Homo sapiens: one gene and its partners. The protein of the gene in region 2 interacts with the protein of the main gene of each other region in a pairwise test. Each region holds a gene or a part of one and is shown on either strand. Other genes may lie near its edges. The genes, in order: SCN3B, VAMP1, SGMS2 and ARL13B.

The links.
Region 1: the proteins of VAMP1 (region 2) and SCN3B interact in binary tests that used the Homo sapiens proteins (3 or more experiments, as listed by UniProt).
Region 3: the proteins of VAMP1 (region 2) and SGMS2 interact in binary tests that used the Homo sapiens proteins (3 or more experiments, as listed by UniProt).
Region 4: the proteins of VAMP1 (region 2) and ARL13B interact in binary tests that used the Homo sapiens proteins (3 or more experiments, as listed by UniProt).

Annotation. Positions count from the first base shown.
Region 1 is NC_000011.10:123,651,292-123,659,656, forward strand, and holds the start of SCN3B (sodium channel regulatory subunit beta-3 precursor), read right to left. Parts: upstream 3,334-8,365; 5' UTR 2,935-3,333; exon of another isoform or gene 2,536-2,934; 5' UTR 2,511-2,535; coding exon 2,456-2,510; exon of another isoform or gene 2,394-2,455; intron 1-2,393. UniProt on the Homo sapiens protein: Regulatory subunit of multiple voltage-gated sodium (Nav) channels directly mediating the depolarization of excitable membranes.
Region 2 is NC_000012.12:6,461,559-6,468,760, forward strand, and holds the end of VAMP1 (vesicle-associated membrane protein 1), read right to left. Parts: intron 5,547-7,202; exon of another isoform or gene 5,493-5,546; intron 4,794-5,492; coding exon 4,667-4,793; intron 4,443-4,666; coding exon 4,284-4,442; intron 3,384-4,283; coding exon 3,332-3,383; coding exon of another isoform or gene 3,318-3,331; exon of another isoform or gene 2,929-3,317; coding exon 2,912-2,928; 3' UTR 1,412-2,911; coding exon of another isoform or gene 1,401-1,411; 3' UTR 1,285-1,400; coding exon of another isoform or gene 1,274-1,284; 3' UTR 679-1,273; downstream 1-678. Other genes in the region: TAPBPL (tapasin-related protein isoform 1 precursor), read left to right, coding at 476-591. UniProt on the Homo sapiens protein: Involved in the targeting and/or fusion of transport vesicles to their target membrane.
Region 3 is NC_000004.12:107,890,161-107,898,421, reverse strand, and holds part of SGMS2 (phosphatidylcholine:ceramide cholinephosphotransferase 2), read right to left. Parts: intron 5,356-8,261; exon of another isoform or gene 4,764-5,355; intron 3,113-4,763; 5' UTR 2,869-3,112; coding exon 2,414-2,868; intron 1-2,413. UniProt on the Homo sapiens protein: Sphingomyelin synthase that primarily contributes to sphingomyelin synthesis and homeostasis at the plasma membrane.
Region 4 is NC_000003.12:94,031,641-94,039,901, reverse strand, and holds part of ARL13B (ADP-ribosylation factor-like protein 13B), read right to left. Parts: intron 4,572-8,261; coding exon 4,466-4,571; exon of another isoform or gene 4,461-4,465; intron 3,351-4,460; coding exon 3,148-3,350; intron 23-3,147; coding exon 1-22. UniProt on the Homo sapiens protein: Cilium-specific protein required to control the microtubule-based, ciliary axoneme structure. May act by maintaining the association between IFT subcomplexes A and B. Binds GTP but is not able to hydrolyze fit; the GTPase activity remains unclear.

The DNA of each region.
Region 1 (8,365 bases), on a different chromosome or scaffold from region 2:
TAACCCAGCATTATTGTTCAATATTGGAATTGCATGCAAATCAAATGAAATTGTATCTGTGAAGGGCGGCTGTTTTTCTTTCTTTTTTTTTTGATGGAGTCTCGCCCTGTTGCCCACGCTGGAGTGCAGTGGCACAATCTTGGCTCACTGCAACCTCCACCTCCCAGGTTCAAGCAATCCTCCTGCCTCAGTCCCCCTAGTAGCTGGGATTATAGGCACGCACCACTATGCCCGACTAATTTTTGTATTTTTAGCAGAGATGGGGTTTCGCCGTGTTGGCCAGGCTGGTCTTGAACTCCTGACCTCAGGTGATCCACCCGCCTCGGCCTCCCAAATTGTTGGGATTACAGGCGTGAGCCACTGCGCCTGGCGAAGGGAAGCTGTTTTTCTTACAGTTAACAACCAAGTGTCCTGAACCACTTCTCTTTCCCTTCCACAGCTTTTCAGTTTGGTGAGACAACACTCAGTTTGCAAAGAAACTGAGAATGGGCAAAGATGGGCATACTGTGTACACTTCTTCCAAAGTTTTTTGGGGTCGGGGAGGGGATGGGCACTCTGTCAATTCTAGCAATATTCTTCAAAGATTTCTCTACCATTCATCTGTGGAGCTGAAAAGGATGTTAGATATCACCCGTGCCAACTTCCAAACATTACACAGAAGGAACCAGATAGCACTTTAAGGTTGTTATATAGTAAGCTAGTGGCAAAGCTGAGACTCCAATGCAGGTTGCACAAGTTCTAGTTAAAAGATTCTTGGATGATAGCATGTTCTCTCCCTCCACTGGAATTCAGGCAGGGATCTCAAAATCTTAGATTAGAGTTCAGGAAGAAAGTCTCTGCAGAGTCTCACTCCAACCCTTATCCACAACTTCAGCTTTACCGACGCTCTTTTTATCTGGCCAGGCTAACATCTTCTAAGCCTCGTGTCCTCAGCCTTAGCCTCCCCTGAGAAAATTTCAGCCTTAATCTTCAAGGCAGGTGAGATCATTGGCAACATATTATAGCTGCTCCATCTCCAGGTCTGGTCTACTCTACTGGGGATGGCTGGTGATGAGTCCGCCTTTGGGGCTGACATTACCTCCCTCCTCAACCTTCCTAGTCCGTCTCATCAGGCATTTTGACAGGAAGCTTGGCTCTGCCTCTGGTCACATGCAAAATCCAGATAATGCTGGCAGCTAGAGTTAGTCCTGGAGGCTTGAAAAAGTAATACTAAAGCAAAGAGGCAGCTCCCATCAGCATGTCTGCCACCGTATAGGCAGGATGAGTTTCATGCCAACCATGGGAACATAAGCTCACATGCCTCGTTTCAGGGAGGCAGGTGGGTACAATTGTGTCCAATTACCCTGTGTATTGATTTTTGCACGGAGAAAGGTAGCTAAGATCATGTAAAGCAATCTGTCTGCTGAAGAGAACCTATATTTTATCTGAGGATCTAATCATAGACACCAAGGCAGACATGCCCAGAACTACCACCCCCACCCCTGCCATACACATACTACTACACTCACCCATGCATTCAGATGTCTATGCCAACATGCTCACACACATGCTAGTGCACACATCCAGACACTGAAATATATTTACATACAGTAAAACATTGTCTCAATCACACAATCAGACATTATCACATAGATCAATCCCCTTTACACACATTCAGGCACTCCAAGACCGTCTCTGACACTCTCTTCAGCCTTTACTGTTCCAAGTGTAAGATTCCCTTATTTGGAGGGGGAAGGTCACCTCAGTTTCTCACAGCTGACAAGCAAGAATCTATTCACCTTTGAAGGCAAAAACCCAGCTCTCCTCCCCTAACACCAAAGCATCTTAGTTCCACAGGTTCATGCAACAAACAAACAAACCAAAAAAAAAAGAAGAAGAAGAAAAAGAAAGATGCATTTCACAGTTGCCTATTTATTTAATATATAGCAGTAAATGGCTGAAGGCTGTTTTCTTCCCATTCCTTGTTAAAATTAAGAAGATGATGAGCAACTAAAGTATTTTCACTCTCAAAATTCATGCATCCAGCTTTTATGGTTTTTTTTTTTTTTTAATATACAGAAACGAATTTGAAGACCCAGTAAGCTTTCCAGGAGTATAGACTCCTTGATGAGAAATAAAATGTAACCACACAGGAGGTTTTTATTCGTGAACGTGACTGCATTTCCTTTCAGCAAAGGGAAAGGGAAAAAATACTTTGGAATGATCAGGAAACTGGAGGAAGGGCGGAAGAACCACCAAAGGAGGTTGGAGAATAGCGGGGAAGGGCGGTGGGGAGGCGCCTTTCCCATCTCAAAATCCCAGCTCTCATGGAACCCCTGCCATCTCCATGTCTGGCAGATACGCACAGAGGCAAGCCAGCCAGAGCTCTTTTCTGTCACCAACGACATCAATGTGTTATTATTGTTAGCATTGTTACTGTTACCTGCATCCGGCATGGCGAGGTGCTGGTACTTACCCCAGTAGATAAGCACGAGAGAAGCCAGGGGAAACAATCTATTGAAGGCAGGCATCTTCTGGGGCTGGCGGCTTCCAAGGCTACACAGAGAGATTCCCTCGGTCAAGGACTGCGCCCTCTCAGATTCTTTCGAGGAAACCCTTTGGGACGAACTGCCCCCAGGGGGCGACTTTCTGACCGAAGGAAGGGCCGAGCACCGGTGCCTGGGGAGGCCCTGGGAGCTTTTGGAGCCGGGTGGGGGCTTTGGGCCCTAAGCGACCCCACTGGACCTCCCCAGTTCGAGGGAGCCGATCAGCCGCTCCGCGCCCGCTCTCGCCGGCGCTCAGCACCACGGACAGTCGCCTCCCCGCCCACCCCGGAACTCCAGCTTCCACTCGCGCCCCTGCCTCGCTCGTTTGCGCCCAGGGTAAGCTCAGCTCGGAAGGGAGTCGCACTGCTGGCCTAGCAGCCAGGCTGTGGAAGGGTCCAGGTTGATTCACCTCTCGCCTCCCCAGGATCGGTTGCGTTCCGACTGGAATCCTCCCAGCCCCGCGGCTCCTGCTTCGTCCGCCCTAACTGCTTCTCCAGCTGGGCGTGACCCCACTCCCGAAGCCGCCGGGGCCGCCCGTCTGGGCTACAGAATGCGTTCCACGTCGGTCCCGTCCACGCCCGCCCTCGGCTCCCTGGGGAGGTGCAGCGGGGCCGGGAAGGAAGCGGCAGCTCCCGTTCGGCCGGCGATGTCAGAGGTTGGGGGGTGGGTGTAGAGGCGGAGCCCCTTCCCGGGAGCTCGCCCCCGGATGGTGCGGGGCCCCGACCCTGGGTGGCAGGTGATCAGCAACCCTTCTCTAGGCCCCCAGGCCGTGTGTGCTGTCAGCCCTGACATGCGCAGGCGGCTCTCCGCCACCACCACCGCCCCGGACCCTCCCCCTAGTGCACACTCCCCACCCCCTGATGGGCGTGCCCCTCCCAGGCCCAGCGCCGCGCCGAGCGGGGGCGGAGCCGGGAGCGGCGCAGACACTTCCAGCCGGGATATCTTTGCTCGCGCGCTCGCTGGTCTCTCCAGGTCTCCCTCTCGCGCCTCCGCACCTCCCCCGAGCTCGGGCGCACCGCCGCCCTCGGCTCACGCCCTCCAGGCAAACCCACTCCGCTCCCGCACGGACTTGCCGGGTGTAGCTCCGGGAAGAGAAGGGCCAGAGCTCTTTCAGGCAATGATGTCATCTGCAAGGCGCGCCGTACGCGGTTCCTGGCTTCGCCTCCCAGACCCCATGCCTTCCAGTTCTCGCTGTCTATCCTTTGTCTAGCCTTGATTAATTGGCCCCGGACACAGCAAACTCAGCAAGATAATCCCTGTTTAGGGCAAATGGGGTAGGGATGAGGCGCACCTGTTCCTGTCTTCACCTCATCACTCAGTGAGGTGATCCAAATGTCAGCGCAAGGGGAGGGGGGCCCAAGAGGACTCCTCTTCCCTTCCCCAGGTTCTTTGCAGTTCTCCCTTTTCCTTTAATTACTCCTTTTTAATAAAGCAGATAGATTGTGTTTGGCGTCTTCCAACTATTAGCCACTCCCTAGTCCTAGCAGCTGTTTGAGTGCCCCCGCCCCATCTCTGGAAGGGAAACCTGAAACTTTACATTCAACTATAAACTCAAATTGACATAACAGATTAGGAACGCCTGGAACTGAAGTAAAAGAGTAATCCAAGAGCCCTTCTTCAGCTTCCTTTTTCTCCTCTTCTGCTCTTTCCAAAAGGGGAAGCTTAACGCTGATATTCCAAAATGGAATAACAGAGCAACAGCTGACGGTGAGTGGACCAGAAGCAGGAAATGCTCCCTCCTGACATCTCACAGAGTAACAGAATGTCCCCAGTCGGATCTTCCTGGGCAGGGAGCCACCAGGCCATAAACTCTGTGCTGTTTGGAGGACTAGGCCTTGAAGCATGTATACTGTGTTAAATTTGGATGGGAAGTTAAAGTTGACCTAATTCAACCGCTTTTCCAATTTGTGACTTCCCCCAAGAACATTTCGGACGAATGGACTTGATTTTATTTATTTATTTATTTATTTATTTATTTATTTATTTATTGAGACGGGGTTTTGCTCTTCTTGCCCAGGCTGGAGTGCAATGGCGCGATCTTGGCTCACCGCAACCTCCGTCCCCCGGGTTCAAGTGATTCTCCTGTCTCAGCCTCCTGAGTAGCTGGGATTACAGGCATACGCTGCTACACCCGGCTAATTTTGTATTTTTAGTAGAGATGGGGTTTCTCCATGTTGGTCAGGATGGTCTCAAACTCACAACCTCAGGAGATCCACCCGCCTCGGCCTCCCAAAGTGCTGGGATTACAGGCATGAGCCACCGCGCCTGGCCTTGATCTTTTTAGTGATGAGAACTTTCTACATCACAAGTTCACCTCTTCTGATGCTTAAGGAAGTTCTTTATGTTCAGTTGAATTCCGTACACTCCTCCTCCCCCTCCAAACTCCATTAAGTGGCCCTAATGCTGTTTTCTCTTTAAAAGAGCTATGCTTCCTCACATCCGCCCTAAGACATTTTTGTTTGTGGCTACTCTTCCTTAGTTTCTTCCAATGTATTTTCTAGTAGTTTCCAATCCTGTACCACCCTGGCTGCTTTTTCAGAAGGACTTTCAGTTTCTCAGCATGATTCTCCAAGTGACGTCCAGAACAGGAACTGATGGTCCCTGTGTGGTCTGACCAGCATAAATCCAGTGGAATTATGGCTACATTTGCTTTGAAGGATATAACTAGTTAAATACATTTACAGCCACATCTTAGTCATAATCAGCTTATGTTCAATTAAAATCCCTGAGTATTCTTCACTTGACTTGTTGCAGAGTCATTGTGTCTTGTACAGGCAATTTTGGAAATTTTATTATGAAACTTTGCACTTATTGCTGTTAAAATTTATTAGTTTCAACCAGTTATCACACTGTGTTAATACTTTTATTGAATTCAGATTCAATCACCCAATATATCTCTCTTCTTTACCCTTGTTTCATCTCTAGGCTTGACAATCACATGATCCACACATGGATATTTAAAAAAAGAACCAATAGAAAAAAAGAAGAGATAGTCCTATGGCCTGCTTCTAAAGACCTCATTCTACCTTGACAATGAGCTACTAATTAACATTTTTGTTTGTTTGTTTGTTTTTTGAGACGGAGTTTCACTCTTGTTGCCCACGCTGGAGTGCAGTAGTGTGACCTCGGCTCGCTGAAACCTCCACCTCCCAGGTTCAAGCAATCATTCCGCCTCAGCCTCCCAAGTAGCTGGGATTACAGGTGCCCACTACCACACCCAGCTAATTTTTGAATTTTTAGTAGAGAGGGGGTTTCACCGTGTTGGCCAGGCTGATCTCAAACTCCTGACCTCAGGTGATCTGCCCGCCTTGGCCTCCCAAAGCACTGGGATTACAGGCATGAGCCACTGCACCTGGCCTAATTAAAATTCTTTAGAACAGTTGCTCAATCATAAAACCCAAACATAGCTCCCTATTTTTTATATGTACAGCATGAGACATTCTGAAAATTTAGAATAAAAGGAATCTGTGAGAGGAATTAGACATCTAGTCATCCACAGGAAAGAAATAGGATCAATGGCTTACACTAACACAAAAACAGATTTTCAGCAATACATTTCAAACCTTTCCAAAGTAGGACAAATTACCTTTCGTTACATCCAAGCAGTTGTTATCCAAACAACTGCTGGGATGTTTAGGAAGGAAAACCTGTAAAGGTTAGAAATTTGGAATAGATTATGTTAAAGTTCCTATCGTCTTTGAGGTTCTATGACTTTATTGAAAGCCTTACCAAGACTGAAATACACAGACAGACTGAAATATTTTCAGTCTGATAATTTTATCAACTACCACAGCAGGAATTGGCTCAGCTTTACAAAATTTTTCTTATGTCTATTCATGTGAATTGCTAATATTCATAATGTTGTTTTCTAATTGTTTATCAACCCCATTGTAAATAGTCACTGTCAGGATTTCACCTCTATTTTTCATATACCACTTCTTCCCTCTCCTGTATTGAAAATAGGAGCATTTAGTCTTTTCATTCTCCTGCTGTTTCCCTTGATTTTTGGCTGTCACTCTCAGTCACTTTTGCAAGTACCTTAAGTTCCCTGAAGTACTCTTGGCCTTGTTCTGAGAGTTTTAAAATCATTTAAATTAAGCTCTCCCTTCCTCTTTTCTGCCATTTTGGCTTCAATCCTTTCTCATTGTTGTTGACTTGGCCTCCCAATTTAATAATCATTCTCCCTTCACAGTTAATGGGTGAAACCATATGCTCTATTCTCCAAAGAGTAGACAGAACAGTCTTTGTATTCTAAAAGATGGGAACTTCTCTTGCTTAAAGCCCTTCCATGGCATCTCACTACACTGAAATAAAATCTAGACTTGTCACCATGGCCTAATGTTGGCCTTGTGCCCTGGCTATCTCTCCACACTCATTTCTACCACTCTCTGTCTTGTCCACCATGTTCCAATTACACTTAATTTTAAAGAAATGTACCTCATAGTTATCAAACTCTTCCCCACTATTAATATTTCCCATCATTATTATTATAGCCTTAGCATTTGATGTCCCCTCTTCCTGGAACATTCTTCATTCTATGGCTGGTTTCTTGTCATTTTGGTCTTGCCTCAAATGACTTCACCCTAGAGTGACATTCCCTGGTCACTCTAAGCTTGTTTCCTGCTACCTTCCTCACCTGAAGCTACTCTCTATCTCATCACCCTGTTTCTTGTTCTTCATATCTTCTCTCACTATCCAAAATTATCTTATTTTTAATATATGTACTTGCTTATTTTCTGTTCCTCCCATCAGGCTGGTTCTCCTTGGTGATAGATAGCAGCCTTGTTTGTTCTGTCTACTGCTGCCGTCCTGCACCTAGATCAGTGCCAAGCAGATATTAGGTCCTCTTCACAGAGGACACAAGTGAATGAATACACAAGGGAGTGAGAATAGTGTGGAAACAGTGAAGAGCTGAGGCCAGAATCAATAGGGGAACAGAAAACCAAGAGTCAGAGAAATAGGAAGAGACCCAGCAAGGTGCAATGCCATGGCAGGCCAGGGAAAAGAGGGTCTTTAGACTTAAGGACACTTCTCCTTTGAGGGGACTTTAGCTAATTATGCTCAGAGATTGAGGAAGAGGATGGAGTACAGAGCCTAGATATTCAGGGATCTTGAGGTGGAGGGAATGACATGACTCTGCTGAAGAAAGAATTGAATGGGAGCTATTCAGGGAGATGTTAGTTTTCTTGTGGAATGAAACACATTCACTGAGACTACTGGGGAGGAATTAGAGACAGGAGCAGTGGAAGTGACATTGTAAGTAAAGATAAGGTGTGGGACCTTAAGAGACACACAATGATCTTGGTAAAGTAGGAAGCCACATTTTCCATTGAGTGTAGGTGGTAGGGAGGTACAGGAGAACCCAGGACAAGGGAGACAGTCTGAATAACTGAGGGCACCTTCTTAAAGCATAGAAAAATGTCAAGAAAAGCTTTTCAAGATCAACATGTACCTGAACTCAGTCAAGATGCAAAAATCAGAGCCCAACCTAGGAAAGTCAAGTAACCTGCTTTTGCTATTCGAAGTGGATTTTGAAAAATAGTGCACACCCCATGGGACAAGGAAAGGGAAGAAATATGTTCATTTTAAACTGTGGCCAAAGAACACATATGGGACTGAGAGATATCAGGCTCTTCCAAATCATTCCCTCATCCTGCCAGCCAGCTGTGTGATGTTGTCACCAGGCAAGGGAAGTTTGGGATTAGAATAGGAAGCAGTGACATGATGATTAGATTATGCAATTCCTTCCTGGATTTGCAAATGGCACAGAACCTGGCAGGTAAGATGGGGCCAAAAAATGTTTGTTGAAATGAATTGGATGTCACCTGACTGATTGTGGA
Region 2 (7,202 bases):
TCCACACTGGTCCCAACTGAGCCCTGTCACCAAGCCTAGCGGCTCCAACTTGCAAAGTGTTTAAGTATGAAACAAAGGCCCTCAGAGGCACCCCCGTGGCTCCATCTCAGTTGCACCTCAGCTGCAATTAGGGTTCTGCTCCCTCGGGTGACTGCTGGGAGGTTCAGGATACCTGCAAATGCCTCACTCCCTCAGCTGCAAGGAGAGACTTCTCCTTTTTATTCGTTTCTAAAATGTGCCTAATCAATACGGTGGAACTCAGCATACCAAAACTGTACGTGAGGATGATGGGGAAAAGGGGGTAAGGGGGTGTTCACTGACAGCCTTATCTGGGCACATCCCCTGGGACAGGACAAGCAGGCCAAGGACCTAGGAAGGAGCACAGGAGGCAGATGGAAGAGGCCTGAGGGAACCTGTGCTTGTTTGCCAGTGTGAGATGCCCACGCAACTTCCTGTCTTCACTTCCTCTTACCAGCACCTACAGGACTTGGGCTGCTTCAGGCTGAACGCTGGGAGACCACTTCCTGTGCTGACACACAGAGCTCCCATCTCCATGAAGACCGCACAGCGCGTGTAAGCCAGCCCAGCTGACCTAAAGCGACATGAGACTACTAGAAAGAAACGACACCCTTCCCCAAGCCCCCACAGCTACTCCAACCCAAACAACAACCAAGCCAGTTTAATGGTAGGAATTTGTATTTTTTGCCTTTGTTCAGAATACATGACATTGGTAAATATGCCACATGCCTTTGGTGGAAGTACAACTGTTGTTATTACTCTATACAAGTATGAGATCAGGGTTAGGAAAAAAAGACAAAGAGGTGATGACAGACACACAGTGGAAACCCCACATCGTCTCATGGCAAACCGAAGAACGGGATGTGGGAAGCTCAGCTTCATTTGACTGCAAAGTCCCAGGGTTTTGTTGCACATTTGCTCATGCACATGGGTGGTGGGAGGAAAGGGGGATAGCAGAGACACACAGAAGAGGGTACAGGGTGGGTGAGAAAGAAAGTAGAAGGGCTAATACCCCCAAAGAACAAGGCCAACTACACCTGGTGAGCCTCAGAGGGACAGAAACCCAGGAATGATTCCTGTGATAGGGCTGGGAGAGCCAAGAGGACGGATTCGCTCCAGGCTTGGGACACATCGAGGACAGTGGTGGTTCTTCTCCAGCGGTGACCCCCTGCATTAGGCAAGGAGGAGCCCAGAGGAGAGTGGAGACCTTCGAGGGGGGCCGTTGGGAGGGTACTGACTGCTTTCTTCCAGCTCTTCAGTCCCGCCCTTGGGCAGGACGAAGGGAATGTGGGAAACAAGGGCGAAAGGAAAGGAAGGATGGTTTTGAGCAATGAAATGCTGCTGCATGGAAAGTGGGCATCCAGACCCTGCCCAGCATGGCCTCAGCCTCTTCCTGTTCGTGGACCGAGGGAAGAAGGAATAAAGGGCCATGGGCATTCTCCGCTCTGTTCCCAGCCTGCCCTCCTCCCCTTGCACCTGGGCTTATCCCACATTAATAGCCCATCCTGAAGCTCAGCAATTGCCCCGAAGATAGGCTGAGCAGATCCCATCCTCAGGTTCCACTGTCTATACACACAAACCATGCAAAGAGGAGGAAGAGAAAGGAGGCAAAGTAGAATTCAGACAGGAAAGGGTGGTTCAAAGGGGAATATACTACAGGAAGAACAGAGAGGCGGCTCTCAAGGAGAGGGCCCCATGACAGCACAGCAATACACAAGCACACCTGACACAGGCTGGCACGCCTCCCCCCAAGGTGGGGCTGGTGGGTCTACATGACTTCTCTGCATCCTGAGGATCGGCCGGGCCCCAGGAAGAACCACTTGCCTCATCCCTGTCTTTGGCAAGTGCACGGGTGGTGTGGAGGAAAGGATTCCATGGGTGTCCAAAGATCTCACACTGCTAACACCCTCACGCTCCTTCATCAACAGGAAGAGAGGAACAGGACCCTCTTTAACGAGGGCAAGGAGTGGCTTCCTCTGAGCTTGTTACTTTCAAATTAAGCACTTGACTCACTGTTTCTCTATAACTAACAGGCAATCTCTCTCTTTATGCCAACAATTAACTGGGAGCTAGGTTAAATTATTTGGCTAGATAAAACTACCAGCTAGATGGATTTATTTGGTGCCCTCATACAGAATGCTGTAGAAAATGTAAAGAAGAGAAAGCTCCTTCCAGCTAGAAGCACATGGGACTGCTTCTAGGATGGAAACAAGTCCTGCTATTTTCACAATCCCTAAGTGTTCTCCAGGCCTCTGGAGAACAAAGTAAAGTTGTAAGATCCCCAAAGACACGGAAAATCCTGGACGAACAGATTAGAAATAACTACAAAAAACAAGTTTTTACTTTCGAAAAGGGTACTGCACTGAAACCAAGTTGGACTTTGGTCCACCCCCAGGACCCTCTTCAGGCCTGGTCCAGGAAGGAAAGCTCCACATGACCAGGCAGTACTGAGTGAGCTGCCATCTTCCCAGCCCCTCCCTAGCTCCTACCAGTGGCCAGGTTTTCTAGAAGTCACCATGGGCACCGATACTCTTCTCCTCCCAAGTCTGGGCAGCTTCATGGGTACTTCGCCTCAGCCACTCCCCTCCCTGCCCCTTCCCTTGGCCTCCAACTCTTTGGGGCTTTGGGGGAACTTGAGAGTACAGAAAAAGCAGGCAGGGAGGAGGCGCCAGCTGTTGCTCTTCGGGTAATGACTTAGATTGTGCCACGAGCAGCATTTCTAGTGTTGAGGGACAGAGTGCAAATGAACGCAACGAAAAAGGAGGAATGGGTGATGGAGAAGCCTGGGCTGGAATGGAGGACGGTGGGTGGGGAAGTGTGTTGAGAGAGCAAACAGAGGGCAGAGGACATGAATGTGGATGGCAATGGACAACAGGGAAGGGGTGGTACATTCTCAAGTAAAAAAGTAGACTGGACACAGGAATCAGGAAGTCCCAGACGGAAAAGAGAAAGAGACAGGAGAAAACAAGAGGGTGAATTACACCAAGTTACCAGACATTCAGGTCTCTCCATTGTTAAGTGCCCCATCCCCATGGTCTCCCTCCAACCCAAGCCAGTGACACACAGCATAGCCCCACTTCCTCAGAACAGGAGGCGCCATCTCCCTGCAATGCGTTGCAGGGGGAAGGCTTGTCCATCAAAGAAATCCCTTGTCTCTGCCCTTCCCCCGTCCCGAACCAGGTGACGATCCCATAGCAGCGGTCTCCATACCTCAGTCAGAGCAGCCCCACTCCCCAGGCAGGCAGGCAGGCAGGGAGAAGACTCCAGGACCTTCCCACCTCTTCACCCCACCAGCAACTTCAGCGATACTTACTTACAATAACTACCACGATGATGGCACAGATGGCTCCCAGCATGATCATCATCTGAGGAAACATGGACAAAAAATGAGCCCTTGGATTTCAGGAATGAGGAAAAGAGCCACATCTCTAGTGGGAAACAGAATTCCTTCCATCCTTGGGACAATGGAAAAAACCACCCATCACCCAGGAGACCTGCAGGCCTCTTAGAGAGGCCCTACCCTTCTGCTTCCCAGGGGATCATAACCACAGTATGTCTGTAGCTTTTCAGATTCATCACAGGACCTGCATTGAGCTCCTTTTTGCTTAGTTCCTGGTGTCTTGGGGCTTTAGAAGGCATTCCAATAGAGATACAGACTCTGGATATTTAACCAATTAGTTCAATTTTCACTGTGAAGTGTTCAGCTCATTCTCAAAAGTTGCAGTTATTTAAAAATATATATTTCAATCTGAGAAAGCTGATTTAAAAGAAAAAGAAAAAAGTATATATATATATAAATGTATATATATGTATATATATATATAAATGTATATATATGTATATATATATATAAATGTATATATATGTATATATACATATGTGTATATATAGTGTGTGTGTGTGTGTGTGTGTGTGTATGTATATATGCCTGAGCCATTGTGCTGATGTTGGGTGTGTCTGAGGATGAGACAGGTGAAATTTTTTGCAGGCAACTCCTTTGGGGTAAAGCTCCTTAACTAACCATTCCAAACTCCTCAGGGTATCACTTTTTCCCTGATAGCGGTTCTAAATACTCTAGCCTACCCTGGTGGCCAATTCTGGGTAATGCAATCTCAAGAGGAGGCTTTCCAGATTTCCTCCCAAGCGTTATGCTGGTCAGAGAGATCCTGCACCATTAGAGGGAAGAAATGTAGAAGCTGAGGGTTTTCTTGCCTTCTACCAGTGGAAGCCCAGGAAAAGATGGAGGAGGGGACAAGAAAATTCACCTTGCAGTTTTTCCACCAATACTTCCTCTTTAGCTTGGCAGCACTGCTCTCAAATTGTGATGCTCCTGCCTGCAAGGCATCAGCTCGGTCATCCAGCTCTGACAGCTTCTGGTCCCTCTCCAGGACCTTGTCCACGTTCACACGTATGATGTCCACCACCTGAGGAGGGCACAGAAACAAAGCAGCTAAGCTTCCTGCCAGAGACAGAGGAAAGGACAACAACCAGAGAATCACAAGTCTGGCCCTGTGCAACTCTAAAGGGTGCTTTGCCTCTCAGGGCCTTTGACTATTCTCCTACGAAAAAAGGAGAAAAGATAAGAAGTTCCCTTTTGTTTCCAAACTCCTAGATTTGGAAACTTTCAGAGAAACAGCTATCTACCTACCTCCTCCACTTGTGCCTGGGTTTGCTGTAGTCGTCTGTTACTGGTCATGTTAGGAGGAGGGCCAGGGGGACCCCCACCTGGGGCAGTCCCTTCTGTCCCTTCAGCAGGTGGCTGAGCTGGAGCAGACCTGTGGAAAGACATGTGCAGAGTACACAAAGTGACCAAGACAAGAAAGGAGCTGGGCGTGGTAGCACACACCTGTAGTCCCAGCTACTCAAGAGGCTGAAGTGGGAGGAGCGCTTGAGCCCAGGAGTTCGAGGCCAGCCTGGGCATCATAGCGAGACCCCATCTCTAAAAAAACAGACAAAAAGAAAGGACTCACATGCATCCTCACCCCAAACCACTTAAACAATTATGATTAGGCTATACAAAACTAGAATGGATTCTTGCTCCTTGGCAATCTGAAGTAGGGAGACAAACCATAGAGGCAAGAAGTAAAAGATGAAAGACTCTGCAACAACATTTGGATGGGGTTCAGGGACATCCAGGATGGCATCAAGACATCTCATCTGGGGCTATCCTTTGACTCAACTCAAACAAGTCCTCTGCCATGATGGCTACAGGGACATATGGCCTAGCCTTGTCCTAAATGGCATTTCCCCGCTGATATGGTTTGGCTGTGTCCCCACCCAAATCTCAACTTCAATTGTATCACCCAGAATTCCCACATGTTGTGGGAGGGACTCAGGGGAGGTAACTGAATCATGGGGCCCATCTTTCCGGTGCTATTCTGGTGATAGTGACGAAGTCTCATGAGATCTGATGGGTTTATCAGTGGTTTCTGCTTTTGCTTCTTCCACATTTTCTCTTGCTGCTGCCATGTAAGAAGTGCCTTTCACCTGCCGCCATGATTCTGAGGCCTTCCCAGCCATGTGGAACTGTAAGTCCAATTAAACCTCTTTTTCTTCCCAGTCTTGGGTATGTCTTTATCAGCAGCATGAAAACAGACTAATACAGTAAATTGGTACCAGTAGAGTGGGGTGTTGCTGAAAAGATACCCAAAAATGTGGAAGCGACTTTGGAACTGGGTTAACAGGGAGAGGATGGAACAGTTTGGAGGGCTCAGAAGAAGACAGGAAAATGCGGGAAAGTTTGGAACCTCCTAGAGACTTGTTGAATGGCTTTGACAAAAATGCTGTTAGTGATATGAACAATAAGGTCCAGGCTGAGGTGGTCTCAGATGGAGATGAGGAACTTGTTGGGAACTGAAGCAAAGGTGACTCTTGTTATGTTTTGGCAAAAAGACTGGCAGCATTTTGCCCCTGCCCTAGAAATTTGTGGAACTTTGAACTTGAGAGAGATAATTTAGGGTATCTGGCAGAAGAAAAGACGCAGTACTAAAGAAAAAAACCATTTTTTTGAGAAGAAATTCAAGGCAGCTGCAGAAATTTGCATAAGTAGCAAGGAACCTAGTGTTAGCCCCTAAGACCATGGGGAAAATGTCTCCAGGCCATGTCAGAAGCCTTCATAGCAGCCCCTCCCATCACAGGCCTGGAGGCCCAGGAGGAAAAAGTTATTTTGTGGGCCAGGCCCAGGGTCCCCATGCTGTGTGCAGCCTAGGGACTTAGTGCCCTGTGTCCCAGCCGCTCCCACTGTGGCTGAGAGGGGCCAATGCAGGGCTCGGGCCGTGGCTTCAGAGGGTGGAAGCCCCAAGCCTTGGCAGCTTCCACATGGTGTTGAGCCTGCAGATGCACAGAAGGCAAGAACTGAGGTTCGGGAACCTCCGTCTAGACTTCAGAAGATGTATGGAAACGCCTGGATGTCCAGGCAAAAGTTTGCTGCAAGGGCAGGGCCCTCATGGAGAACCTCTGCTAGTGTAGTACAGAAGGGACATGTGGGGTTGGAGCCCCCACACAGAGTCCCCACTGGAACACTGCCTAGTGGAGCTATGAGAAAAAGGTCACCATTCTCCAGACCCCAGAATGGTAGATCCACTGGTAGCTTGCACCGTGCGCCTGGAAAAGCCACAGACACTCAATGCCAGTCCGTGAAGGGAGCCAGGAGGGAGGCTGTACACTGTAATGTCTGTCAGCTCACCCCTTTTTATATTCAAGTTATTGGTTATGGTTATTGGTTTATATGCCCAGTTATTGGTTATGCTTCACACAAGATGAGGAAATCAGGGCTGCCATAAGGGCAGCTTGGAAAATCACCAAAGGCAAAGTCTATGTAGGTGGAGTGAGTCAGGACTGTTTGTTTGCTTTGTTTTTGGCAGAGAAAATGGGGGTTTCACTTAGATAGAATCTGGGGCCCAAAGCAATTACATTAGTTATGGAAACTGTTCCAAGAGCATAGACAGGAAGCAAAAATGCTAGAAATTGTCCTCAATGTGCATGCATTATAGACATTCTGTCCCTTCCTTTTCTGGATTTGACAGTCTCAGATGACTCCCTTGGTTACTTACATCCCAAAGAGAGATCTTGGTTTACTGTACTATACACACAGAGAATGTTCTCTCATTCTGTACCACTCAAAGTTAGTGTGTGGTCTTCAAGACAAACTCCTCTCCATGTCCCAAAACATGGAGGCTAAACTC
Region 3 (8,261 bases), on a different chromosome or scaffold from region 2:
TTTTCCCTAAGATTGTGGTTCTGACATGAATCAAGGTCTAATTCAGATAACATTTGGAACTTCTAATTTCAAGAATTATGTATAAATATATATTTCAGCTGTCTGTTTCCAACAGCTATTTTAAGAATATTCCAAGGTTTCTGGGGTCAAAAAAAAAATAGAAGGGAACACCACCTAGACTAGTAGATGAGAGTATTTATTTATCCCCAAGGAATTTCTTTAAAGGCTTGCTATTCTAGTTCTGCCTTTCCTGGTACTAAAAAGGAGCAGGTAATAAACAGTGCTGAGTTTCTTCCCTTGGTTAAGGGAAAACCAATTTAGCCTTTGATCCAACCTCAGGTTCCAACAGAGTGCTGTTTTGAATTGTGCTCCATGCTGTTAGACAAGGGGAAGTAATAAGCAGAAATTATTATGAGTCAATTACATTCATTCCAGCATTCTGAGTTCAGCTGTACTCAGAACAGAAAACCAACTTAGAAGGTGAAAGATGTACTCTACAGCCTTATTTAGAAAAAGAACTAGTGCTAATGACTTTTTCCCATAGCTTTGAAAGGTGCTTTTAAAAGAGAGAGCAAGCAACATTCCTCATTCAGCTGGGATGTTCAAAACAGGTTATAAAAATTATTCTACTAGTTACTAAAATGTAAGATCCAATTCTACTTCAAATGTAAAAAGGCAAACTTGTGTGAATTGCGACTGAAACAGTGGATATCATTAAAATTTATGGTCTGGCTATGTGACCGTGTGTTTGGACATGTTGAAAATCTAAGGTGGTAGGTAGAGGCAGTTAATAATAACTATCTAATGAAAATTCAAAAAGGATCTAGATGAAAATACAGCTAAATTGAGGGAAAGACTGTACTTCAGGGTGGAGTCCACATACTTACCAGATTCTGGACAATTTCTCTTTTCACACATATATCAATAAAACCTTGCTCTAAATAAAGGAGAAAGCAAATTATCTGCCGCCTTAGCAGGCTCTTACATTGTGTTAATTTCCAGACACTAAAGAGAAAAACACTGAAGTTCATAAATACATTTTTTGCTTTTAGCATAAAGCATCCTTTAACAATTTCAGGAGCAGGTTACTTTTTTAAGTAAAAGACAACTCATAGCTAAGTCTATTACTTAAGCATATTAAGGAAACACATGAAGAGTTATATTAAGGAAAATGCTTAGGAATGACTGCAGTTTGTGGAATAAGGTTTTAAGACTGCAAAGTTGCATTTGGGGAACTCTTTAACAAAGATAGACTGAATTCCTCTAATCACAAAACAGTAACAGTGTTAGGGTCTGAGTGGATATACCACATTGAGAGTTCTATAATTGATCAAGTAATGAAAAGTGTTACCAACTAAAAAACAATACAGCCAAAATTCTCTAAGAATGATCTTGTGGCATTAATACTGAAATCCTATTTGACTTGGAATGTTCAGATTGTATCCAAGTTAGCATACATTACATTTTTAAACTCTGTATTATGGTCAGTGTTTTGATCAAAATCATATTTTAGTGATTTAATCACTACCATCCCAGTGGAAAACAAATGTCTAAATGATGAATGAGAGGAAAGGAGGAATTAAGGAGCCTTCGTTTTTATGGACTAGGAGTCAGAATTCACATAGAGAAGCAGAAATAACCACTTCAGGGCTATGTCCAATTCTTAAGTGTCTTCAAAGCAAAAGTACCTGACTTATTTCTTCTTGATTTCCTACTATTCCAAAAATGAGGAGGCTGAACCCAGTGAACCATGAGCTCCTTTGTGGTGTCCAAGGAAAATCAGAGGGCAAGTTTACTTTAGAAATCTAAAAATCAAAACCGCATGGATCTGGTTCTAAACTCAGTCTCTTAAACACTTGTAACTAGATAGCAAGCAAACAAAAAACCGAAACCACATCCACACACCCAGCCCCACAGAAATGTAAAATTTGAGAATTGAATCTAGGCAAACCTTAAAGCAGGCTATTGACTCTAGACCAATACAGACATCACATTATGAGTAATGGAGAAAAAAGTTTCTCAACCTATTCCTTTTCCCACTTGTCAAGAGCCTGAAATAACAAACATGATGGGAGTGAATGTTATTCCTTTCCAAGCCTCTTGATTTATCATACAAATACCATAGCACCAAGTTGCTGGAAGTCAGGAACTGCACCTTAAATTCATCAACTCTGAGTCATCCACCACAGTACTGCTGTACACTGCCACTTTCATACACAGTTGCTCATCAAACACTTACTGAATAGTGACTGAATTTATTCAATGTGGTAGAGCTTTCTACTGTTTTCTTTCATCAAATGTTTGGGTAAGACTGAATTTATTGGGGGAAAAAAAGGAAAAATAATCTCAATAACCCATCTATTCACTCAAAAACAAACCCATGACAAATCCTCAAAACATTAGATTTACTTACTTGTATCTCAGAAACAGCCACTGGGTGATCCATAATCCAACTAATATAATCCCATTTATTTCTGATACAGAAAATGCCCATTTCACCCTATCAATGTAATCAAAAAACTTGTCTGGGAGTGGAGGGCTAAGCTCCTTGGGAGGGACCCTCTCATGTACAACTGTGATCATGACGGTTGTCAAGACGAGGTTGAAAACTGCATATATGAAGGCAATGCCCGTTTTCCACCACTCTAGTGGAAATTTGTTCCTTGATTCAGTGGGCATAGCAATTTGGATATAGTCCGGGTACTTTTTGGTGCCTTTTCGCAGCCCACTGGATAAGCTCTTGGGTTTACCATTGCCATTTTTGTTTTCTTCTTCAACAGGTTCAGCGGGTCTTGCATAAGTGTTCGTAGGATCACTGGGTTGATTTTCCAAATGTTCTTCAAGTTTTGCTGTCTCTATGATATCCATTGTCCCCTAGTCTTCAGATCAAAAAGGAGATGGTCAAGTTCTTGTTCTTTGTGGAAATTTAGCTTTTTTCAATCCTTCTATTTCCAAGATCAACATGGACTCTTACAATGGACTTTGTTTCCTAATACAAAATGTAGAAGGTAGCCATCCGATTACTGTTTCTTCCATGCAGCTATATGCTGTACCTTCACCACTTTCAAGAAAGGAAGCCAATTCTTCCCTCAAAAAGATGTTACTATCCCACCTAAAAGCAAAACAAAATTATGTTCAGAAACTATGCTTGTCCAACTGTCAACCATCCAAAACAGAAACATTCTTAAACTAAGGAAACAAATACCAAAGCCATTTGCTTTATAAATGTAACGTCAGAACCTAGTTAAAGCTGCTGAGATCAAGTTTATTTACAAAATACTGAACAGTTTTATCTTGGAATTCTTGTCTCTTTTTGAGCTAGTATTGGTAGAAATAGGAACATTTTAACAATCAGTTCCCTTTAAATTTCCTTAAAGAAAAATCAGGACCTAACATTGCAAACACTTCATCAGACACTATCACTTGTTGCTAACCATGAAGTCATAATAAGCTAGAAATTACCCAGAGATCACATCAATCCTTCCTAAGACTGTATTTTCTATGAGCCATAAAGAAAGAATAAAAAACTGGTAAGAGGCTTATATGCATTGAATAATTGTTACTCTTCATTTGTCAAAATAGTCAATTTTCTATTTTCTAATTAAAAAACAGAAGTCTTTTTAAGTGACCGCTTTTAAGAACAGATTCAAGAACAACACATTCAAGATTTTTAAAATGGCACAGCCTCAGTTTATCCTTTTATATTCAGAGACGCACACCATATACAAGAAAAGCTGGCAGCCTTCAAAATAACTCTGAAAAGATACACCAAGCCTTAGCTATGTCTCTCACGCAGGTAACAAGTAGAATTTATTTGAAGGATAAAAATACCTCACTACAATTGGCATGATAAATTAGTAACTAACAATATTTTGATTCAGCTACCACAATTTCTACCAAACAACAGAAACGGGCCTCCAGAGGACCAGCTCAGGGGACTCACCCACCACGACACTGATGAGGATAACTACCTTTGGCTTCAGCTCCACAGGCTCCAGAGAGCACACACTTCTTTCGGACACGGGGCACCACTGCCACCTCTTTTATACTTGCTAGCACACAGCCCCAGCTGTTCTCAATTTAGGAGAGCAGTCTTTTAGTCCTGCTACAGAAACCAGCCACCTGATGAGGTTTTCAAACCTCGTAATTAGTCCTCTCCCTGGATACACTGCTCAACTTAAGCACAATCCACTGCATTTTAAAGGACCTCCCCCCTCCCCTGCCTCCCCGTTTCAGGGTAACTTCAGGGAAAACTGAGGAGGACAAACTCAAAGTGATGACAGCTAAGCCTTTATTTAATGAAAGAAAAAAAACACAGCGAAAATGGCAGTCAATATGTACAGGCAATGTCTGTTTACAATTATGGGTGGCAAATAGATAAACCACAAGTGTTTACTGTGCACCTAAATGCCCCAGTGCTGAAGGCTATGTAGGGCAAATTAAAAGGAGTGAAAAACACCTGACCTGAACATTCAGCCAAAGAGCTTGCAGTCTAACCAAAGAGACAGGACTAAAATGATGAAAGACTACTGGAGAAGACTGAATGGCATATTGTGAAAGGAAGGAGAGGGATGAGCTGATCACTAGGTAAAGTGAGAGGTTTAGCTGTACTGTTTCCCTGCTCCAGGGACAAGATGTGTCCACACACAGGCTCTGTTTCTGAGAAAGCAAAAGCATGTGGAAAGCTGGCCTGGTAGAGAAATGGGGGATAAGGGAGCATGAGACTAGCTAAAAGGTACTACTGAGAATTATAAACATCTCACCTTTCCCTTGTCCTTCTGCAGAGCCCCCAGCTATCAATACATTACAGCAGGATGAGAAAGACCCAGGCCTTTGACATCCCAGGCTTTGACAGGCCCAGGCTTGACAGTGTCTTGGCACAATGTTGTGGGAAGAATAAGCACAATGAAGAGGTGCCTCAGGAAGGTATTTTCAACAACAAACCTTCAACACCATGAACTGCTACTTCTAACGGAGGTCCGAAGCACTAACACAGCCATTTCCTGTCTCTCTTTAGCAGCCTTGCCTAATCCACTTACAGCATCTTGCCAAATCATCATCCAAATTCCCTTCAACTTTACTCTTCCATATGTGCTCCTAGTCTTATGTTCATGTGGGAAAGAAGCTTGTGATTTTGAAACTCCATTTCACAGTGGATGTACAGATGGTCTTTATAAGGTAGCTACTCGGTTCTAGAACACAGAATGTGGAACAGAAGAAAATCCAATTAGTAACCTTTTTTCTTTTTTTTTTCCAAGAGGACACACTCAGCCACCCACCTCATGGGACTGCTATGAGAATGACTGAAATAATTAATTGTGAAGAGCTTTGTGCCCCTGGGAGTAAGAACACTATGTGAGTACAATGCCCATTTATCGTTATTAGTGTTAAAATTAATATTTTCCTTGGGATTTCATTAAGATTAAATATACATAGCACATTCATCATGTGTGAACAAATCTTGGGACGAAATGTTTGTCATCAAGATAATGATCACAACATATTCATTCCTATTTTGAAAGGAAAATATCTCGGGGTCCCAAAATCACTCAGCTAAAGGAAAAAGTCAAGCTGGGAACTGCTTAGGGCAAACCTGCCTCCCATTCTATTCAAAGTCACACATCTGCTCATGGAGATAAATGCATATCTGATTGCCTTCTTTGGAGAGGCTAATCAGAAACCCAAAAGAATGCAACCATTTATCTCTTATCTACCTATGACCTGGAAGGCCTCTCCCCACTTTGAGTTGTCCCACCTTTCCGGACCGAACCAATGTTCATCTTACATATGTTGATTGATGTCTCATATCCCCCTAAAATGTATGAAACCAAACTGTGCTCTGACCACCTTGGGCACATGTCTTCAAGACCTCCCGAGGCTGTGTCATGGGTGTGCAACCTCAACCTTGGCAAAATAAACTTTCTAAATTAACTGAGACCTGTCTCAGATTTTCAGGGTTCACATTTTGGTAACCACAGAGGGATTCTGAGTGGAGGTGCCCCTGACCTTTAACAAATCTCCTATCAGTGCTTGGTTCAACCTTGGGCTATCTTTATGGCTTAAACCAATAGGACAATTTGCTGAGGCCTGGAAGCACCCATTCCAGAGAATCCCTGATCTCCCCAATTCTGGTTGAGATCTAAAGTTTATTTTGCTGTACAACCTTTTTTTTTTTTTTTTTTTTTTTGGAGTTTTAGTTGCTTCCAACACAAGGCAGGCAAGTTTTTCCTGCTTCCATGATGATGGAAGGTAGGTAACTCCTTTACGGAGTTTCCCTTCCAACAGGGAAGATGAGGTTTTTTTTTTTTTTTCCTGCTCCTAGTGACACAGGAGATAGAAGTTATTTAGGCAGATAGTGAGGGTAAGAGTTCTTGGCAAGGCTTCCCTTCTAACAGAAAGCAGCCCGAGAAACTTCTTTTGTCTAATGAAGAGCAGCCTGAAAAATTGAGCTGCAGACATAGATAAGCAAGCTGGAAGCTTGCACAGGTTACTGCCAGCAGCTGTGCCAATACAAAATGGCTACCTGGGGGCCAGGTATGTTCAACGTGTAGGCTCCATCTTCCTTTTTGTCACCATGTGTAAAGAAACAGGCAACATGGTGTGGGCCAGGAAGATAATCCATTTGCATAATAAAACATTAGGGTGGGGGTGGCCAGCTTTTTGCACCCTTATGCAAATGGCACACCTGGTCCAACCAATCTTTCATGCCCTATGTAAATCAAACACCACCTCCTCAAGCTCATCTATAAAACCTGCATTTCACTGAGGAAGCAGAAACCCATTTGGGACCCCTCTCTCTGCAGGAGAAAGTTCTTCTTTTCCTTTTGCCTATTAATCCTCTGCTTTTAACCTCACTCCTTGTGTGTCCATGTCCTTGATTTCCTCTGCATGAGACAATGAACCTCAGGTATCACCCCAGACAACAAGGCTGCTTCACTAGGATAGAAAGCAGTCTTCAGCCTGAGACCCAACAACCCCTAGATAACTAAATTGGGGTTTGTCTTGGCTAAAGTTAAAATCAACAACCAGCTGGTCTTAATGTCTTTACCATTAGAGTGCTCAGTAATCATATAAGTTGTGCAATCATTTTTTTTTTGCTTAACTGTTTTTTTTTATTGTTTCTCTTTTTCTTGTTGTTTCAGTCTTTTTCCCATTGGGTTTGACCAACTTCTTCCGACTTGATCAAATCCGAAGGAAAGTTCCAAATTATGGGGAACAAGGCCACTGAAGTGGCTAAATTCTCATAGACACACACAAAAAAGGTAGTATGGTAAGGTGGTATAATGGGGGGGAGAAAAACAGCCAGAAAAAGGAAAAAAAAAGAAAAAAAAGGAAAGAATTTTAATTTTGACTACTTAAGGGGCTTTATTTACATAACAAAGCCACCTTTTTGCTAGCCAGGTCAAACTGAAAGCAAAGGCAGTCACCTCACACTGCATTTCAATAGCTAGGGTTCTGCCTTTTTTTTCCCACCATGACAGCCTGAGTTTTGTTTCCTAAATCAAGCCCTTTCTGGTTTGATACTTGGTACTTCTGAAATAGCGGCAATTTGTCCTAGTTCGTGAAATATGGAAATGAGATTTAAAGAGTTGTTTTTTTAAAGGAACTTAATGGTTAAAGTCAGCTTAATTGAAAACTACCATCCAAGATGTGTGTCTGTACGTTTACATGTGTTTGTATTTAAAAGGCCTTCATGTTTTTATTCCTTTTTTCTCCCCCAGGACCTTGTCTTTTTTTTTTTTTTTTTGAGGTGGAGTATTGCTCTGTTGTCCAGGCTGGAGTGCAGTCGTGTGATCTTGGCTCACTGCAACCTCCACCTCCTGGATTCAAGGGATTCTCCTGCCCCAGTCTCCCAAGTAGTTGGGATTACACGCACGTACCACCACACCCAGCTAATTTTTGTATGTTTAGTACAGATGACGTTTCACCATGTTGGCCAGGCTGGTCTTGAACTCCTGACCTCAGTTGATCCACCTGCCTTGGCCTCCCAAAGTGCTGGGATTATAGATGTGAACCACCATGCCTAGCGCCCGTTTTTTAAATTTTTTCTTCTCAGTTGACTGGATTCTGTTTTCTTCATTTACTTCTGCTGTCTCTCCTTTCTCTTTCACCCTCTGCTGCATGAGGGACCTAAACTAGTTTATAATAGCCTGGGGTTCCTTAAAGAAAATGGAGAAGACACCAGACTCCCTTTCGGGGAGAAACCTGTTTCTCCTTATGGAACTTGAAGAGTGTAAACAGACAAGTTCATCTCAGCTTTT
Region 4 (8,261 bases), on a different chromosome or scaffold from region 2:
CTGCTCCTGTTCATTTTGTTTTCTATCGTTTGAGGAAAAATAATTGAAATTTCCTTTGAGAAAGTGCTGAACCATGTTAAAGAAAACTGCAATAGGTATAAGGCTATTACATGTAGTAATTTAAACATCTGGACATGGTTTTGAATTACTGAGAGCATTTCAAAAATCCTTATGCAGGTAAGAGGCTGCTTCCTCCCATGTAAAGACTAATCATTTCAATTAAAAAAATGCTGATAAAAATGACATTTCCTATGAGTGACTTCTTAATATCAACAGTGCAATTATTCTTCCATGTGCCAAGGGTATTACTGATCAACTTATTAATTACCCTCCAAAATCAATGCTGTCCTCTTTACTGGTGTTAACAAATAGTAATTATTCTTTTTTTTTTTTTTTTTTTTTGAGTCGGAGTCTTGCATTCTCGCCCAGGCTGGAGTGCATTGGCACCATCTCGGCTCACTGCAAGCTCCACCTCCCGGGTTCACGCCATTCTCCTGCCTCAGCCTCCTGAGTAGCTGGGACTACAGGCGCCCGCCACCAGGCCTGGCTAATTTTTTGTATTTTTAGTAGAGACGGGGTTTCACCCTATTAGCCAGGATGGTCTCGATCTCCTGACCCTGTGATCTGCCTGCCTCTGCCTCCCAAAGTGCTGGGATTACAGGTGTGAGCCACCGCGCCCAGCCAAATAGTAATTATTCTTATTAATTCTTTTCTTAAGGGCTAAGTCTTCTCTTACAAAACTAGGAAAACATTCCTTCAACTCAACCTATGTTTTTATTTCTGCATAAACATGTTTCTTGTTTAGTATAAAAGAATAAAAGACTAGAATATCTACAGATTGATTCTATAGAAGTATATGACAGAGTAGTAATATAAAATATTTTATCAAGTTGTGTATCATATTTGAACTAGATAATAACTTCCATAATAGTGTTCAGTGGCTATAAAAATAAGTTACCATATGTATCATTCAGATTAAATAAGTATTTCCATATTAGTTACCACTGAACATTTACTATCTCTGTGATTTATAGTAATGTTGTTCCATACATGATGAGTAATGTTATTAAGATGAGCAGCCGGCCGGGTGCGGTGGCTCACGCCTGTAATCCCAGCATTTTGGGAGGCCGAGGCGGGTGGATCACGAGGTCAGGAGTTTGAGACCAGCCTAATCAACATGGTGAAACCCTGTCTCTACTGAAAATACAAAATTAGCCGGGTGTGGTGGTGCATGCCTGTTATCCCCATTACTCGGGAGGCTGAGGCAGGAGAATCGCTTGAACCTGGGAGACGGAGGTTGCAGTGCGCCGAGACTGCGCCATTGCACTCCAGCCTGGGCAACAAGAGCAAAATTCCACCTCAAAAAAAAAAAAAAAAAAAAAAAAAGAGCAGCCAGAGACCAAAAAAAAAAAAAAGAAAGAAACACAAGTATTGTGGATCTTTAACTGGACTGTAAGTATGGTATAGCAATGTAAATGTTCATTACCATAATATTTACTAGCTGTGTTCTAGATGGAAATACATATCCTTTTATTATGAACCTAGGAAGCCAAGATTTGGAGATTTGCAATTTACTACTTCTGTGACTTTGGACCTGGATCTTTTGAGCCTTAGCTTTCCCACAAATGTGAATAAAAATAACCACTTCATAGAGCTGTATCAAGGGTCAGATAAAGTAATATATGTGAGAACACTCTGTGAATTAACTTTCTCATAGGATAGTCATTGTTATTAATTTTATTTATTAGTAAGCAACTTCAGGAATACAGTATTAATATATTATTTTTACTTGGCATGTTTTACTGTTTTTCAAAAACACTAGAAATGACTATCTGAACCAATTAGATTGGATTTAGTGAAGTAAAAAGCTTGTTTTTAATCACCCGTCTCCGAATGTCAATTTGCTTTTAATTATGGAGTATTGGCTCAACAGAAGAGGTCTCCTCAAGAGGAGAGGTCTCAGACCACAACTGGCATGGATAAAGAGAAAGAAAGAAAGGGTAAGGAGTATTGGAAAAGCCTGCCATAACATGATCTAGAATATCATTATGGAAAAGGCAAAAACATTTAAAAAGTTACTAACATTAGATTTCTTTTATCCAACTCAATTTTTTTGTTGCTTCTGTTTTTATTTTCTTAGTGGAGGAAAAGGAGTTTTCACATAATTATGGCCATATATTTAATTTTTATAAATATTATATATAAAAGGTATACTTAACATGCATGATTGGTTGTACTGAGCTTTATATGATAAAAATACATACTAAGAAAAAAACAAATATTCTCACAGGAACTAAAACCTTGTATCAACAGCTGCCAAAATCATTCACTCTAATCTGTCTTTTATATAAAGAGATCCCTAGATGAAAGGCACGCTCATATTATTGAGCACTTGGGGATAGAGAGTCATTTCTATAAATATTTCTTTAAGTCCTATTGATGAATTAAATGAAAAATACCAGTTATCAGAGGATTTCCTTCACGGTATAAGGAAGTACCTCATAATGGGTCACCAAGGGTAGTGAGTTCTTGCTCACTGGGCTACAACTATGTTAAACTACATAAAAGGCCAGATGGAAGGCAACTATGGATCAGATTTTGCTTGAGTTGAATGATTCTCTAGCAGCTCACCTTCTATCCTTGCTGAAACTAAAAAGGTTCCTCAGTCTCAACGTTATTGACATATTAAGCCTGATAATTCTTTGTTGTGGGAGACTGTCCTGTGTGTCATAGGATGTTTAGCTGCATCCCTGGCCTCTACCCAATAGATTCCAAGTAGTACTCCACTCCTTCCCCTAGTGGTGAAAACTAAAAATGTCTCCAGACACTGCCAAATGTTAAAAACTACCCTGTGCATTGAGAACCACTGCACTAAGGTACCCACAAGCAATCAGAGACAAAAATTTAAAACTCTGGAAGACAATGGCTACGTAAGGAGTAAATTTAACTATTATACAACCACCAGAAAAATTAGGAATCTACCACCCAAACTTGTACAGAAAAAGATCCACAGAAATACAAAATTTACCTAGTGTCTTCCTTCACACAGAAAGAAGAAACTGAACAGATAAAACTAACAACTGATTCATAAAATTGTTATGTTTTTGATCCTTCAAATGCACTGTGGTACAAAATTAATCTACTTACCTTTCTTCTCGTAATTTTCGCACTCGTTCAGCTCTTTCTTGTTTCTCTTGTTCCTCAAGAGCACGCTGCTCTGTTGTCTCTTTTTGGATGCGTTCATTTAAGGCATCAAAGTCTCTTGCAATAACATGTAGCAGCCAATAAAGGCCTTTTTTAATGGACTTGTCAATTTTCTTTCCATACCCCGAGATTGCTGAACATGGTTCCTAAAACAGAAATTTATTTGACTAAAAGATTAAAAGGTCTCCACACAAATCTATTCATAAACCATTAAGTATAATTAATGGCAAATCAAAATTAAGCCATTTAAGTTAATAATATGAAGCATCTGCTTATTTAACTTCCAAAACATAGCACTGCAATGATTAACATCAGTATATAGAACTTAAAATATTTTACAGATAACATCTGTACACTATGTAAGATATTATAAAGAAGAGGGTGACAGTGCCACTTATAATATTAGAAGAAAAAATTTAACTACCATAAAAAGACATCTCTATTGATTAAAAATGCCAGGAAGTTTTAATTCCTTATACTACAATATACAGCAGTAAACATCCATAAGATTGACAGCCTAATGTTTTTTGAAACCAAAATAAATTATTAAATCCACTGTTCATCTTCCTTAAGACTGTATGACATCTCTCCTGATATGATTTATCTTTTCTTTTTTTGTTTTTTAGAGGCAGTGTCTCATTCTGTTGGCCAGGCTGGAGTGCAGTGGCTGAATTAGAACTCACTGCAGCCTCAGCCTCCCAGGGTCCAGTGGTCTTCCCACCTCAGCCCCCTCAAGCAGCTGGGACTACAGGAACACACTACCACACCCAGCTAGTTTTTGTATTTTTTGTAGAGCTAGGGTCTCACTATGTTGCCCAGGTTGGTCTCAAACTCCTGGGCTCAAGCAATCTGCCCCCTTCAACCTCCCAAAGTGCTGGGATTACAGGCATGAGCTACCATGCCCAGCAAAATAATTTTTCAAAATTCATTATGAATCTCTCATATGTTTAAATTTTGTATTTACACTTTTCTTTCCCATTTTACAAATTTCATGCCATGATGTGTTGGCTATGTTAAAACGCAAATGTGAAGCTCCTTGAAATCATGGAAAGATAGTTCATGGAAATAACAATGAAATAGACAACAAATATTATGGTATTAAGTTATATCAACAGAAAAATGGGAATGTGATTTCATAGGTTACAAAAAATTCTTTGAAAACATTGCCTTTTAATTGCTATCACTTTTATAAAAACCAAGTTATACTGAACCTATTTGAAAGGACAAAAAATTAAAATTAAAAAAAAAAAAAAAACCTTACTATCTGACACAGGCACTTGTGCTCATTGACCAATTTTTCCAGAGATAGACATTCAATGACATCAGCTTCTCCTAAAGCTCCTTCTTTATCTTGTTTATTTGCCAACCTGAAAGATAATTAAAGTACTTTTATACAGCATATATATAATTGGATGGAAACTTAAAGATATTTTGACCACATTCTTTTTTTTTTTTTTTTTTGAGACTGAGTCTTGCTCTGTTTCCCAGGCTGGAGTACAGTGGTGCAATCTCAGCTCACTGCAACCTCCGCCTCCCAGGTTCAAGTGATTCTCCTGCCTCAGCCTCCAGAGTAGCTGGGACTACAGTTGTGTGCCACCACGCGAGGCTAATTTTTTGTATTTTCAGTAGAGACTGGGTTTCGCCATGTTGGCCAGGCTGGTCTTGAACTCCTGACCTCAAGTGATCTGTCAGTCTCAGCCTCTCAAAGTGCTGGGATTACAGATATCATCCACCATGCCTGGCCTGACCACATTCTTTGATTCCCAAGTTTTAAATGTACTGATTACAGAACACACTAGTATCTTAAAATGTTGTAGCATCAATTTTGTCATTTTTCCCTTATTATTGCTAAAATAGTTTTTAAGTACTGGCCTATAAAAGGAAAATCAAATAAAGTGTCAAGAAAACATAAACAAGAGATCAATATGCCAACAAAACAGAAAAAGCTACAAAACAGAAAAATAAGAGGACTAATTTCCACAGGTCACATCCATAAATTATATTCTTATCTTCTTAAAATACAAACTGTAATGTTTTAAATGCCCAAATATTCATTCTGAACTTTTAATATTTGAGCTCATCTACAATTCTAATGTGTGAATGTGTCCACATAAATGTGCAATTTACTGAAGACCCAAGGCCACTTCTAATATACTTGGCAAAGCACTGGGAATTAAAAAAAAAAAAAAAATTGTACTCAATTAGAGACAAACTGGACACCAACAAAATGGAAAACCAATATATTCTACAGAAAAACAGGATTTACCACAATTTACCACTATTTAATTATATAACATAGATTTAAAAGTTTAATAAAATACTGCCTTGCTCAAAGTTTGACAGACTCTTTAGGTTAAAAAAAAAATTAAGTACATAGACTAAGAAATCTAACGAACCCTTCCCACCTATCTTTAAAAATTATCAAAACTGTGTCATTCTTGCTTATCTATATACCTTCTTTTTTTTTGTATTTCCCAAGTTACCATTAAAATCTACATACCTTCTATTTTGCTGCCTGAATCACATTACTTCACCCAGATATTAAAAAATCATTACCATGATACCACTATCACACCTAACAAAATTAACAGTAAGTCTTCAATATTACTCAATTTACTCAATATTCTCCAATATCATTTTACAAGTGTTATGTTTAAATTCAGGTCCAATATACGTTACTTATCACTTAACTCTTTTTGAATCTATATTATACCTGCCCTCCCCACTACCACCCCCATGACTCTTTTCCTCCCATGACATTTGTAATTTTTCTTTAGAATTCCCATGTTTGGGATTTGGCTAATATCTTCCTTATAAACTTATTTAACATACCTATCCTATATTTCCCGTATCTGGTGGTAAGAAGCTGGATGAGTTTCAGATGAAATCTTTTTGGCAAGCATACTTCGTAGGTGGTGCTTGTATTTAGGGAGGCATATAATATCACTTTTATATAATGTCCTATTTTGGTGGTATAAAATTAACTAATGGATTTACATTTAGCCTGATCCATCCAAAATAAAGTTCCTCATTAATCTTTCACTTAATGATTTTAGCAGCCATTGATGACCTTTACTTAATTCTATTATTTTACCAAAGTTTATGAAACAGTAACTTTATAGTTCCATATTCCTTCTGCATTTACTAGCAGGATTCTTGCTAAAAATAAGCTTTCACCAACTACTTGGTGCCTCTTAAAATTCACAAAGTCAAGATAAATGTTTGATCCTTTGCCTTTATTTCCTGATTTTCAAAATAATGAATTAATGGCGTAGCAACCTCCGAAGGTGATCAGGTTGATTTAAAAAAAAAAAATCCTATAAATTTAAGGATTATGAGTGCAGTTTTGTGATGTAAATGTATTGCATAGTGGTGATATATTGCATAGTGGTGAGGTCTGGGCTTTCAGTGTAACCATAAGCTTAATAATGTGCATTGTAGGTATTAATTTCTCATCTCTAACTCCCCTTCCACCCTCCCACCTGTCCAAGTCTCCAATGTCTATTAATCCACACTCCATGTCAATGTGTACACATTATTTAACTTCCACTTGTGAGAACACGCTAGATTTGACTGTTTCTGAATTATTTCACTTTAAAAAATGACCTCCAGCTCCATCCACGTTGCTGGAAAAAACATGCTTTTTTAAATAGTTGAATAGCATTCCATTTTATGTATGTATATACAAAACACACACACAAACATTTTCTTTCATCATCCATTGAAGGACATTTAGGTTGACTCCCTACCTTTGCTACTGTGAATAATGCTGTGATAAACATCTTGAGTTCAGATATCTTTTCTTGTATAATGATTTCTTTTCCTTTGGATAGGTACCCAGTAGTGAGGTTGCTAGACTGAATGGTAGTTCTTTTTTTAGGTCTTTAAGAAATCTCCATACTGGCCGGGCACGGTGGCTTACGCCTGTAATCCCAGCACTTTGGGAGGCCGAGGCGGGCGGATCACAAGGTCAGGAGATCGAGACCATCCTGGCTAACACGGTGAAACCCCATCTCTACTAAAAATACAAAAAACTAGCCGGGCGTGGTGGCAGGCGCCTGTAGTCCCAGCTACTCGGGAGGCTGAGGCAGGAGAAGGGCATGAACCCGGGAGGCAGAGCTTGCAGTGAGCCGAGATCGCGCCACTACACTTCAGCCTGGGCAACACAGCGAGACTCCGTCTCAAAAGAAAAAAAAAAAAGAAATCTCCATACTGTTTTCCATAGTGATTGTACTAATTTACATTCCAAGAGTGTATAAACATTCCTTTTGCTACACAATCTCGCAGACATCTGCTATGTTTTAACTTTTCAGTAACAGCTAAAAATTCTGACTGGTGTGAGATGGTATTTCATTGTGGTTTTAATCTGCATTTCTCTGATTAGGCATATTGAGCATTTTTTTCATATGCTTGTTGGCCATCTGTATGTCTTCTTTTGAAAAATGACTATTCATGTCTTTTGCACATTTTTAATGGGGTTGTTTTTTGTTGTTGATTTCCTTGTAAGTTTTGGTTATTAGTCTCCTATAGGATAAAGAGGTCGCAAATATTTTCCCTCATTCTGCAGGCTGTTTGCTCCATTGATTACTTCTTTTGCTGTGCAGAAGTTTTTACTTAATAATTAAGTCCCATTTGTCTATTTCTGGTTTTGTTGCTTTTGCTTTTGAGGTCTTAGTCATGAATTATTTGCCTAGACCAATGTCCAGAAGAGTTTCATCAGTTTTCTTCCAGTATTTTTCAGGTCTTACATTAAGTCTTTAATGCACCCTGAGTTAATTTTTGTATATGGTGAGAGACAGGGTTCCAGTTTCATTCTTCTGCATATGGCAATTGAATTTTCCTAGCATCGCTGTACCCATCATCTGGGTTCTCTATTCTTTTCCATTGATCTATTCATCTATTTCTATACCAGTACCATGCTACTTTGGTTACAATAACCTTGTAGTATAATTTAAGGTCAGATAATATGATGCCTCCAGCTTTGTTCTTTTTGCTTAGGACTGCTTTGGCTATTCAGGCTTTTTGGTACTTTTTCTTATTTTGAGAGGCATCATTAT